Linked DNA regions of Homo sapiens. The protein of the gene in region 1 purifies or fractionates together with the protein of each later gene. This does not show direct contact. Each region holds a gene or a part of one and is shown in the gene's direction. Other genes may lie near its edges.

The links. The genes of interacting proteins can lie anywhere in the genome.
Region 2: the proteins of DOK3 (region 1) and TPP2 purify together in Homo sapiens (affinity purification with mass spectrometry; 4 studies listed by BioGRID and IntAct, with this or other methods). This does not show direct contact.

What each region holds. Positions count from the first base shown.
Region 1 is NC_000005.10:177,501,374-177,506,827, reverse strand, and holds the end of DOK3 (docking protein 3), read left to right. Parts: intron 1-1,717; coding exon 1,718-1,817; intron 1,818-1,912; coding exon 1,913-2,085; intron 2,086-2,167; coding exon 2,168-2,845; 3' UTR 2,846-3,435; coding exon of another isoform or gene 3,436-3,783; 3' UTR 3,784-4,924; downstream 4,925-5,454. UniProt on the Homo sapiens protein: DOK proteins are enzymatically inert adaptor or scaffolding proteins. They provide a docking platform for the assembly of multimolecular signaling complexes. DOK3 is a negative regulator of JNK signaling in B-cells through interaction with INPP5D/SHIP1.
Region 2 is NC_000013.11:102,634,978-102,642,008, forward strand, and holds part of TPP2 (tripeptidyl-peptidase 2), read left to right. Parts: intron 1-609; coding exon 610-725; intron 726-1,246; coding exon 1,247-1,415; intron 1,416-2,104; coding exon 2,105-2,262; intron 2,263-3,261; coding exon 3,262-3,338; intron 3,339-5,292; coding exon 5,293-5,399; intron 5,400-7,031. UniProt on the Homo sapiens protein: Cytosolic tripeptidyl-peptidase that releases N-terminal tripeptides from polypeptides and is a component of the proteolytic cascade acting downstream of the 26S proteasome in the ubiquitin-proteasome pathway.

The sequences.
Region 1 (5,454 bases):
ATGCCAGCTACTCGGGAGGCTGAGGCAGGCAGAATTGCTTGAACCTGGGAGGCAGAGGTTGCGGTGAGCCGAGATCATGCCATTGCACTCCAGCCTGGGCAACGAGAGCAAAACTCCGTCTCAAAAAAAAAAAAAAAAAAAAGAAAAGAAAAAAAAGAGCACTGATGATACACTTTAAGATGTAAAATGGGCCGGGCGTAGTGGTTCACACCTGTAATCCCAGCACTTTGGGAGGCCGAGGCAGGCGGATTACCTGAGGTCAGGAGTTCGAGACCAGCCTGGCCAACATGGTGAAACCCTATCTCTACTAAAAAAAAATTACAAAAATTAGCTGGGTGTGGTGGCACACGCCTGTAATCCCAGCTACTACTTGAGAGGCTGAGGCAGCAGAATTGCTTGAGTCTGGGAGGCAGAGGTTGCAGTGAGCTTAGATCGCACCACTGCATTCCAGCCTGGCCGACAGAGCAAGACTTTGTCTCAAAAAAAAAAAAAAAAGTAAGATGGTTAAAACAGTAAATTTTATGTTCTCTGTATTTTATCATATTTTAAAAATCAAAAAACAAAAGGCAGTTGAGGTTAGGCATGGAGGTTCGTGCCTGTAATCCCAGCACTTTGGGAAGCCGAAGCACGTGGATCACCTGAGGTCAGGAGTTCGAGACCAGCCTGCCCAATATGGTAAAACCCTGTCTCTACTAAAAATACAAAAAATTAGCCAGGCATGGTGGTGGGCACCTGTAATCCCAGCTACTTGGGAGACTGAGGCAGGAGAATCACTTAAACCCGGGAGGCGGGCTGGGCGCGGTGGCTCATGCCTGTAATCCCAGCACTTTGGGAGGCCGAGACAGGCGGATCATGAGGTCAGGAGATCGAGATCATCCTGGCTAACATGGTGAAACCCCATCTCTACTAAAAATACAAAAAAAATTAGCCAGGCCTGGTGGCGGGCACCTGTAGTCCCAGCTACTTGGGAGGCTGAGGCAGGAGAATGGCGTGAACCTGGGAGGCGGAGCTTGCAGTGAGCCAAGATCGCGCCACTGCACTCCAGCCTGGGCGACAAGAGTGAGACTCCATCTTAAAGAAAAAAAACAAACCCGGGAGGCGGAAATTGCAGTCAGCCGAGATCTCGCCATTGCACTCAAGTATGGGTGACAGAGCAAGACTCCATGTCAAAAAAAAAGGCAGTTGACAGGAGCAAGGAGCCTGGTGAGGAAGCTGTGGCATTTGACCCGGCTGTGTTGCTATGGGCCAGGGTGGTGCTAGTAGAGGAGCTGAGTGGGAAAGAGCACAGGGGACATGCTGAAGGCCTGGGTGTGGGGATGAGGCAGAGATTGGGGGCACCTTGCAGGGTCATAGCAGGTGGCTGTGGTGAGATGGAGGAAGACACCTGGGGTACTGCTCTAGGCTGTCAGACATACAGAAGCTGGCCCAGCCAAGCCCAGGGGCTGCAAGGGACATCCTTTTGTGTCCCCAGTGATCTGCAGCTCTCAGACACCCTCAAGCACAGTGCCTCTTGCCCAGCCCAGCACTCTCAGTGGGGAGCCAGGTGGGAGAACAGGCTCGGAAGGGGACCTAGGCTTATGCAGCGAGCCGGGCAAAGCTGGAACTGGAGCCCAGGCCCCTGGATGCCCCCTGGCTTGTGGAGTTCTGGGATACTGAGGGGAGGGGACAGGGCATGGGAGTGCGGTGCTCTCACCTTTGACTTGAACTCATTCCCCAGGGGACAGGGGAGGCCTCCTCAGGATCCACAGATGCCCAGTCTCCCAAGAGGGGCCTGGTCCCCATGGAGGAAAACTCCATCTACTCCTCCTGGCAGGAAGGTAAGTTGGAGGACGTGCAAGGGCAGCCTCAGCCCCCCACACCCAGGGCTGGGTCTTTTTGGGACTGACGGAGCTGTCCTGGCCACCTGCCACAGTGGGCGAGTTTCCCGTGGTGGTGCAGAGGACTGAGGCCGCCACCCGCTGCCAGCTGAAGGGGCCGGCCCTGCTGGTGCTGGGCCCAGACGCCATCCAGCTGAGGGAGGCCAAGGGCACCCAGGCCCTCTACAGCTGGCCCTACCACTTCCTGCGCAAGTTCGGCTCCGACAAGGTGAGGTGCAGGGGTGGGAAAGGGTGAGGGGCTGACACCCTGGACCCTCCTGCTAATCCCCACCCGTGTGCCCTGTGCCCAGGGCGTGTTCTCCTTTGAGGCCGGCCGTCGCTGCCACTCGGGTGAGGGCCTCTTTGCCTTCAGCACCCCCTGTGCCCCTGACCTGTGCAGGGCTGTGGCCGGGGCCATCGCCCGCCAGCGGGAGCGGCTGCCAGAGCTGACCAGGCCCCAGCCCTGCCCCCTGCCACGGGCCACCTCTCTGCCCTCCCTGGACACCCCCGGAGAGCTTCGGGAGATGCCACCAGGACCTGAGCCACCCACGTCCAGGAAAATGCACCTGGCCGAGCCCGGACCCCAGAGCCTGCCGCTACTGCTAGGCCCGGAGCCCAACGATCTGGCGTCCGGGCTCTACGCTTCAGTGTGCAAGCGTGCCAGTGGGCCCCCAGGCAATGAGCACCTCTATGAGAACCTGTGTGTGCTGGAGGCCAGCCCCACGCTGCACGGTGGGGAACCTGAGCCGCACGAGGGCCCCGGCAGCCGCAGCCCCACAACCAGTCCCATCTACCACAACGGCCAGGACTTGAGCTGGCCCGGCCCGGCCAACGACAGTACCCTGGAGGCCCAGTACCGGCGGCTGCTGGAGCTGGATCAGGTGGAGGGCACAGGCCGCCCTGACCCTCAGGCAGGTTTCAAGGCCAAGCTGGTGACCCTGCTGAGTCGTGAGCGGAGGAAGGGCCCAGCCCCTTGTGACCGGCCCTGAACGCCCAGCAGAGTGGTGGCCAGAGGGGAGAGGTGCTCCCCCTGGGACAGGAGGGTGGGCTGGTGGGCAAACATTGGGCCCATGCAGACACACGCCTGTGTCCACCCTGGCCTGCAGGAACAAGGCAGGCCGCCTGTGGAGGACCTCAGCCCTGCCCTGCCCTCCTCATGAATAGTGTGCAGACTCACAGATAATAAAGCTCAGAGCAGCTCCCGGCAGGGGCACTCACGGCACACGCCCCTGCCCACGTTCATTGCGGCCAACACAAGCACCCTGTGCCGGTTCCAGGGGCACAGGTGACCTGGGCCTTACCTGCCACCCGTGGGCTCAAACCCACTGCAGCAGACAGACGGGATGGAAATCATTAGGACTCCATGTTGCTCTGCACGGCCGAGTGACACGAAGAGGCAGGCGGAGGGAGCTGTGAGGCTTACTTGTCAGACTCAGGAAGGAGCAACATGAGGGCCCAACTGGAGACCCGGAGGCCCGAGCTGGGAGGAGGCAGTGGGGGCGGGGTGCAGGTGGAAGGGATTTCAGAGACACCCTCGTCCAAAACACTTGTTCCCTGCTGAAACTCCAACAATTTGCAGATACTTCTGGGAACCCCAGGCGTCAGTCTCCTCATCTGTAAAGGAGAGAGAACCGATGACGTATCAGGCATAATCCTTGATGAGAGTTTGCTGCGTGCCTACTCAGTGCCAGGCGCTGGGGGACACAGCCGTGTTCAGGACAGCCTTGGTCCTGTTCTCCGGGAGCCGACATTCCAGGGGGAGAGAAGTTTCCTGAAGACTTCCATGCTGCGTTCCCTCCTCTGCTCCTGCTCCTGGCGCCATCCTAGGAGCCAGCCACGCACGCAAGCGTCATGCCTCCAGGGCTCTGACTGCCCAGCCCCTCACCGCAACTCCACCTCAGCTGCACACACCCTTGGCACATCCTGAACCTCATTTTCATGACGGACACACAATTTTTGCTCTCTCCTGTCCAAGCCTCATCCTCTGGCCGCCACCTCCTTCCAGCTCACTTCCTTTAGTGCGGCCAGTACCGCCCCTGCCTAGGCATGTCGACCTGCAGGGACCCTTTTCTGGCTCTTCGAGGCCTCTGCCCACCATCCCCTCTTTGTTCTCCATAGTCCCTTCCCCCTGTTCTCTCTCGTTTCATCTTACTGGTCTGGCAAAGTCCCCGGCCTTGGGCGAGCCCAGACCTCCTCAGTGCCTGCACACAGCTGCCCACAGCCAGAGAAATCCATTTAAGCAGACTGCCTGCATCCTTCTTAACAGTGCAAGGCAGGCACTCCCTGCCACAAGAGACCCTGTTCCCTAGTAGGGCAGCTTTTCTCCTCCCCAGAACCTCCTGTCTATCCCCACCCAATGTCTCCTCACAGGCATATTGGGGAAACAGGTCGGGCTCTCCCACCGTATCTGCAAGTGTACTGGCATCCATCTGTCTTCTTCCTACCCCTACAGTAGAAACAGTGTCTGTCCCCAGCTGTGCTCTGATCCCGGCTCCTTTCACCTCAGAGCTTGGAAAATTGAGCTGTCCCCACTCTCTCCTGCGCCCATTCATCCTACCAGCAGCTTTTCCAGCCACACGCAAACATGCTCTGTAATTTCACATTTTAAACCTTCCCTTGACCTCACATTCCTCTTCGGCCACCTCTGTTTCTCTGTTCCTCTTCACAGCAAAAACTGTTCAAAAGAGTTGTTGATTACTTTCATTTCCACTTTCTCACCCCCATTCTCCCCTCAATTAACTCTCCTTCATCCCCATGATGCCATTATGTGGCTTTTATTAGAGTCACCAACCTTATTCTCCAAAACAAAAGCAACAAGGACTTTGACTTCTCAGCAGCACTCGGCTCTGGTTCTTGAAACACCCCCGTTACTTGCTATTCCTCCTACCTCATAACAATCTCCTTCCCAGCCTCTACTGCTGCCTTCTCTGAGTTCTTCCCAGGGTCCTAGGCTCAGATGTAGTGTAGCTCAACCCTGCTACACAAAGAATCTCCTGAAAGCCTGTAAAAATGTCCATGCATGTTCTGTGAGTGATCTACCAAGAAAATAAAAAATTTTAAAAATCAAATGCCCATGCCTGGGCCCACACGCAGGGGCTCTGATTTCATCAGTCTGGTAGGTGGGTTCTGGGCATCCACGCTCACTGGATTTCCGGATGATTGTAGTATGCAGCCTAGGCTGGGAACCACTGGCCTCAGCAAGCCAGTCATTCTCCAGGTGTCACAGACCCTCTAGGTGCTAATGACCCCGAAGGTCTGTCTTCAGTGCACACCTCCCCCTGAGCTCCAGATTTAGGAATCCCACTGCACACGAGACATCTGGATGTGGAAAAGACATCTCCAGATCCCATGGGTGAAAGGGGGTTGGGGGAATGGAGACTCTGGTGTTCTTCCAGGATGTGTGTGGACACAGAATGCAAAGCCTGGAGGGATGCTAGAGCCATAGGGAGGAAGATTTTGGCTCACTTATTCATGCAAGCACTTCCTGATGGGTAAGGTCTTAGAGCAAGCTGAGGCCAAGAGGCGGGCAGTCGAGGTGCTGCTGCAGGCACCCCCACTCCCTACAGTGGCAAGCCCAAGCCCAGCCCTTGGCAGCTCA
Region 2 (7,031 bases), on another chromosome or scaffold:
AATGTTTATGTGTTTAATGAGCTCTGGAGAGGACAAGAATGATACAGCACTCATCTTATGAATTGGTGGCCTCCATATTCTTCCCATAAAACAGTAATTCCCAACCTGGCTGTACCCTAGAATCATCTGAGAGTTGTTTAATAAATAACAATCTCTGGGACAGTCCTCAGAGATTCTGATTTAATTGGTCTGTCATGAGACCTCAGCATCTTTTTTGCTTGAGTTCCCCTGGGGTTTATAACATACAGTTGGGTTGAACACCACAGCCAACAGCCATCTTGTTTAACCCAGCAGTGTTTGAAAGAAAATGTCATTCACATGCTTTTAGATATCTGCTTTGTACGTTTATATTACGCCACAAAGCCCACACCAGTCTCTCTGCCCACCACATAATGAGAACACAGTGATTTTTGTGGAATGAAGCCTTCATGTAATGCAAGCAGTTTGAGTCAGACTGTTTAGTTCAGGTCTTCAAAAAAGATTTTAAAATGAGTGTTAGAACACAAGACATTAACACCAGAGGGTCTACAGGTGATCGATCATACTGGTGGGCGGCTAAGGTTTCAGATAGTGAGTGCTACACTACTTGTTTTTGTTTCTTAATTTTAGGTCTGAAAGCTAATAACATTGACTACACAGTTCATTCAGTCAGAAGAGCTCTAGAAAACACTGCAGTGAAGGCTGACAATATAGAAGTATTTGCTCAAGGACATGGTATTATTCAGGTATTGTTGCCTATATGAAAAATGGGTTGTAAAGCATCATTGAGATAATATCTTAGATATTATTGGGTAATATTTTGTTTTATAACAGTGATTCAGTATATCTGAATTATGGATTATATGGCCATAGAACTACAAGCAAAAAGGATACACAAACAAATTTTGTAGTTAAGACAAATCTGTTGCACTAAGATCAAGAAATGTAATAGATGGAGGCCATGTAGAGGTTAGAAATTCAAAGAAATCGAGGTCAAAAACTGGCCAATCATAACGGCATAGGGATTAGTTCCTAAATTTGGTCACTTGAGAATAACAGTGTGAATAGAGTGGAGTGGAAGATGTGACTGGTGTTGTTTCTAAAAATGTAGAATTGTCCTCTTAGTTGGGGTACTAGGTAGTTTTGAGAGGTGAATATAGACACTAACTTTTTGTTTTACAACTGAAATCAAATTGATTGGTAATTTGCAACAAAATATTTTTTGACCCAACCATTTATATCTTACCATGTATATTATTTTCACTAGGTTGATAAAGCCTATGACTACCTCGTTCAGAATACATCATTTGCTAATAAATTAGGTTTTACTGTTACTGTTGGAAATAACCGTGGCATCTACCTCCGAGATCCTGTTCAGGTGGCTGCACCTTCAGATCATGGCGTTGGCATTGAACCTGTATTTCCGGAGAACACAGGTCAGTAATAGGCTGGCAGTAAGCTGACGTATTCACATTTGCTGTTTGAATGAGTGGTATCATAATAAAGAATTGCTGTTTGGGCCAGTGTTGTGAAGAGAATACATGAATTGACAGTATGATTATTTTAAATCTTAGTCATAAGAGAAAATATTAGAGCAATTTGGGGTCCTTGTACAATGGCAATTTAGTTAGCATCTTAAACTACCAGGGAAAACAGTAGAATGAGCCTCAGTGACCCACAGCTTTATTAAATTGTGGATAATAAAATATCAAATTTCTTTTCCACTTTACCTACTTAGGTATAAGACAGAGCTTTCTGTTGAAGAATGAAAAGTAGAAGCAGTCTAGGAGAACTGCAGCTCGATTAGGTGTGAACAAAAATAATCATCGCTATTATCTGGCTGTCTTCATTTCAGTTGAATACTATGACCTGTGTGCAGTAATGAAAACATTCACTTAAACTCTTTATTTTAAGGTCATACCAGTGCTTGGTGAAAGTATAAATGAATCATGAGTAATCTAAATTGTAAGGAAGATTATTTGACTGTTTTATTTAAGCTGTGTTTTGGATGCATTTTACAGCCAACCAAACCAAGTCGCTAAATTTTTTTGGAAAGATGTAACATTTTTAAATGGAAAAAAGGAAAAAAATACTCATCTTTAATTTTTGGTCTTTTTCGTGCCAGAAAACTCTGAAAAAATATCCCTTCAGCTTCATTTAGCTCTGACTTCAAATTCATCTTGGGTTCAGTGTCCCAGCCATTTGGAACTCATGAATCAATGTAGACACATAAACATACGTGTGGATCCCAGGGGCTTAAGAGAAGGATTGCATTATACAGAGGTATTGATGTATCTTCATTTTTACTTTCTTCACTCTTTAAAATGTTTAAAAGGTTAAAAAAAAATCCAAAGTATATTTGCAATATATTGCTTTCTTGCTAAGAAATAACTAGACCTATCCATCTGCCAGGTTATTCAGTTCTTCTGGTGTGTCTATATTCATTTAAGCAGTGAGTTTCTAAAGAATCATATTTTGTCCTTGTATGAATAAGTAAAAGGAAAGAAGAGGTACAGCAGAACCTTTCAATTAGATCTCCCTCTAACTGGTGTTTTCTTTTGTCAGCTAAACAAAGCTGCAGTTGCTTGTTGTTGTTGTTGTTGTTGTTTTAAGAGACAGAGTCTTGCTCTGTTGCCCAGGCTGGAGTACAGTGGTGTGATCGTGGTTCGCTGCAGCCTTGAACTCTTGGGCTCAAGTGATATTCACACCTTAGCCTCCTGAGTAGCTAGGACTAGTGGCGTGCACCACCAAGCCTGGCTAAATTTTTTTATTTTTGTAGAGACAGGATCTCTCTATGTTGCCCAGTCTTGTCTTGAACTCTTGGCCTCAAGTGATCCTCCTGCCTTGGCCTCCCAGGGCTTTGGGATTACAGGTGTGAACCACCACACCCAGCCAGTTATACCTTTTAGTACTCAGATGAAGAAAGCATCTGTTAAACAAATAGTTGTAAACCAGGCATAGAATAGTATCACAACAGTATCTCCACATCTAAAGTTGTCTGTAGTACTAGTTTGAGCTAATTTTTCAGTTGGGAGTAATTAAAATGCACTTATTTTGTACCTGACGTCTCATTTTCCCATTTCAACTGGTCAAATGTTGCTATACATTTGTTTGGGCTGTTTGCTATTAATTATGTGACCTAGTGTCAGGAAATTGGTGTCAACCTCTGGTTAAGACCTTGATTAAAAGTAGATTGATTTATTCTGTCAGTAGTTTAGACCTTCCCCCGCTCTTTTAAACATTTGTTTATGGATATTGACACTTACCGATTCTTTTTTCAAGGTATGTGGCTATGATATAGCATCCCCTAACGCAGGTCCGCTCTTCAGAGTTCCGATCACTGCAGTTATAGCAGCAAAGTAAGTAACAGGTTACTCACAGCTTACTGGTACATCTAAGATTTTAATGACTATTCATGGAGTCTTGTGGACTTTTAATGATCACTAATACAGAACCAGGTAATGGGGATTTTGTCTTAGTTCTGCTCCCAGCTAGCATTTTTAGGTGTCATGTAGTCAGCCATACTGACTCTTGTGTGCTCTGAGAGTAACTGATGGCACCTGGCATCTGCCCTACCTCTGCATCAAAACTATTTCCACCACAGTCACTCTGAGCTCTGCATTGCCCAGTTCAGAGGATAACTCAGGCTTCGTCTGACCCGATCCCACTGTAGTATTTGACAATATTACTTCACTCCCCTCCATTCCTGCCCTTTTTGTCTCTGTCGTTTTTGGGATTTACTCTCTTCTCTTAATGCTTCCACTTTTCTAGTTATCTACTGTAGAAGCAGAAGTTAAGAAACTCTTAACTTCCCATCTTATTCCTCTGGAACCAAGGAAAAATCAGCAGATTATATTACTTCCTGCTTAAAGTATATCAGTGGCACCTCCAAAGGTCAAGTTCAAGCTCCTTAAAATAGCAAACAATGCTCCCTCACAATTATAGCCCTAGCCAGTGTTTCCTGTCATTCCGTACACCAAATTACACATTTTGGCCAACTCACTGATTTTGGCACTTGAGGATTCTCAGGATTTGTGCATGTGCACAGCTGATAACTTGGTTTCAATTTCCTGTCTCTTCAGTTAATGACCAGGTGCATTCCTGGTCATCCCTGGGTGAAGGGAGTCCCTTCTTTCTGCTTCGTGGCACATTTTACGTGCCCCTGGACAGACTTTAGCCAATATATTGTAATTTTTTATTTAACTTACACTCTTTCACTGTGAGCCCACCGAAGGCACAGAGACTACTGTTATACAGGATGTATAAAATAAATTATCTAGTGGATGAAGGTGAGATTGGGATTGTGAGAGTACTGGAAACCAAGTGGAAATTCTAAACTAACAGTTCTGTTACTCTGGTAAATATTAAGTATGCAATAGATCTCAGCCCATGAGAAACACAGGATGAAATTGAGGAGAATAAATTTAAAAAGTGGTATACATGTGGAAAAATTGTGCAACAGTTAAATTCTCAGCCGTATATTCCCTCGAAGTCCAGTAGTAATTTAGACCAGGTAATGTGTAAGACCTTCAGGAGTCAGCTGCCACGCCATCTCCTTCAGGAAGCTTCCCAGGCTCCGTAACTCTTCTTGTCTATCTGGAGCATCTTATGTTAAATGTCTCTGATGATGATTCTCTCCATGCTAGATTGTCTAGGTTAAAGAATCATATTTTCTTCTTTGTTACGTTTCTAGCTCCTAATAACAGGGCCTCATGTAGTAGGCACTCATTTAACCGTTTGTCCTACTGACAAGAATTTGTCTCTAGCATAAAATTTGTTTCCGTGGTGGGTAGTTATGCATTTGAACTTTATTTCATTGATTTCTTACAAAAGTGCTTTGAAAGTAGTTTGCCTTTCTTTACTGTTTTACATCATGGGAGTGTTTTGAAGCTACAGGAGGAGCTTAATTTAACACAAGTCTCATAGCTATAATACCAGTGACATAAAACTTTATCATTGATTTTAATATCTAGGACTCACTGTAGTTTGGAATCTGGTAATTGGAAAATTCTGTGAATGTTGTAGAATGCCTTTAACAAAAAAGAGAATGCTTTTTTAATAGTGTGTGTGAATGTATCTTACAAATCATAAAATAGGCAAAAAGTAGAATCATCTATACTCTGCTATTCAGAGGTTATCTCTGCTAACCTACTGCAAAAATTGAACAATATCGTACCTACTGTTTTGTAACCAGCTTCTAAGTCCCTGTGTTTATTTCCAATGAATTGTTATTTTGCGTTTATCCAATGAAATCTAGAGTATCTGTGGTCTTATAATAAATATATACATTTAATTACTTTTATTAATTTTCAGAGTAAATGAATCATCACATTATGATCTAGCCTTTACAGATGTACACTTTAAACCTGGTCAAATTCGAAGGCATTTTATTGAGGTTCCTGAGGGTGCAACATGGGCTGGTAGGTAAAATTAAAATCTGTGTGACCGCTTATCTCTGTTTACGTTCTAATGACTATAGCTGTATGAGGTTCGTTTATCTGTAGCATGTATTTCCCTGGTACTAATATATGTATTTGGGTACCTTAGACTTTCTGTAAAGTTCAAAACGTTTTTAAGATCTAGTACAATTTTGCATTGGCCCATACAGGAAATTAAGCCATCTTAAGATGTTTTTAATATTTAAGGTTTGAGCTTAGTTTAGAATAATGCCTTACCTGGTAATAATTTTTTTTTTTTTTTTTTTTTTTTTTTTGAGACAGAGTCTCACTCTGTCGCCAGGCTGGAGTGCAGTGGCATGATCTCGGCTCACTGCAACCTCCACCTCCCCAGTTCAAACGATTCTCCTTCCTCAGCCTCCCGAGTAGCTTGGACTAGCAGGCGTGTGCTACCACGCCAGGCTATTTTTTGTATTTTTAGTAGACACGAGGTTTCACCATGTTGGCTAGGATGGTCTCGATCTCTTGACCTCGTGATACACTCGCCTCGTCCTCCCAAAGTGCTGGGATTACAGGCATGAGCAACTGTGCCCGGCCTAATTTTTAAAATACTACAAATCAGTTTAAACAATGCAGCTGTTGCTTAAACCTCAAACTGTTAAACTCTCAGAATTTTAGAAATAGAGCTTTAATCTTTGAAGCTCTGTTTATAGAAGATTTTCACTTCAGTGTCTCTGAAATTTTGAGAGTAAATGATTGCCTAACACAAAGCTCTTGAATTAACATGTTATAGTCCTGTGAGAGTGCTCATGTCATTCTTTTTTACAAGAGCTGTGGGTGTACCATATTTTCCTTCACAAGTTGTGTGTCCTAAATTTACAATTTAGCAGTCAGTATAGAAGGGTATGTCAGTTGTCAGAGCTCACTCCCATTGATAGAAGGAAGCAAATACGGGCAGTCAAGAAAGTGTCACCCAATTTAAATTAGTAGCCAGCATTGTTGATACTTCTTGGATTTGGCCCCTCTGCTAAGCACTTTACAGAGATTATCTTGTCTAGTCCCGTCAGAACCCTATAAGGTAGATAGGTGTCATTAGTAAAAATGGCTTGTATTTTACTTAGGAGTGTGTTTTTTGTACTTGTATGAAAGTACAGATATATTTACATCTGAGACTTTATTGAAAATGAAATATTGAAATCACACATGTATGACTTGGTTTGGGAATAACTGGTTGTATTTGGTTCCCCATACCATTTTCTGGTCATCTATCTGTATGCTGTCCATCTGTTTGTCACCTGGTATCACAGGAAATACCAGACTTTTCTTGTTTTTTGTAATTAGGTAAAGGCAAAATAATAGCAAAAGCTGAGAGCTAAAGCAGTGAATTGAACAGCACCCAATATAGCCTGTTAATTTGCACACTGGTTTATAATGGAGCTATTGCAGCAGTGAGAGGCTTCTGAGGATAATCGGGTTGTACTACACTCATTCATTAAGCATATTTTTCTGTACCATCTGTGCCAGGCCCTTTTCAGTGGGCTAAGGTGGTGAGCTACTTAGACAAGGACCCTGCTTCCAGAGGCCTTGAGAGCATCTAGTCCAAGATATTGCAGTTAAGAGAACTGGATTAGAGGGAGGCAGCACAGAGTAGCGGCA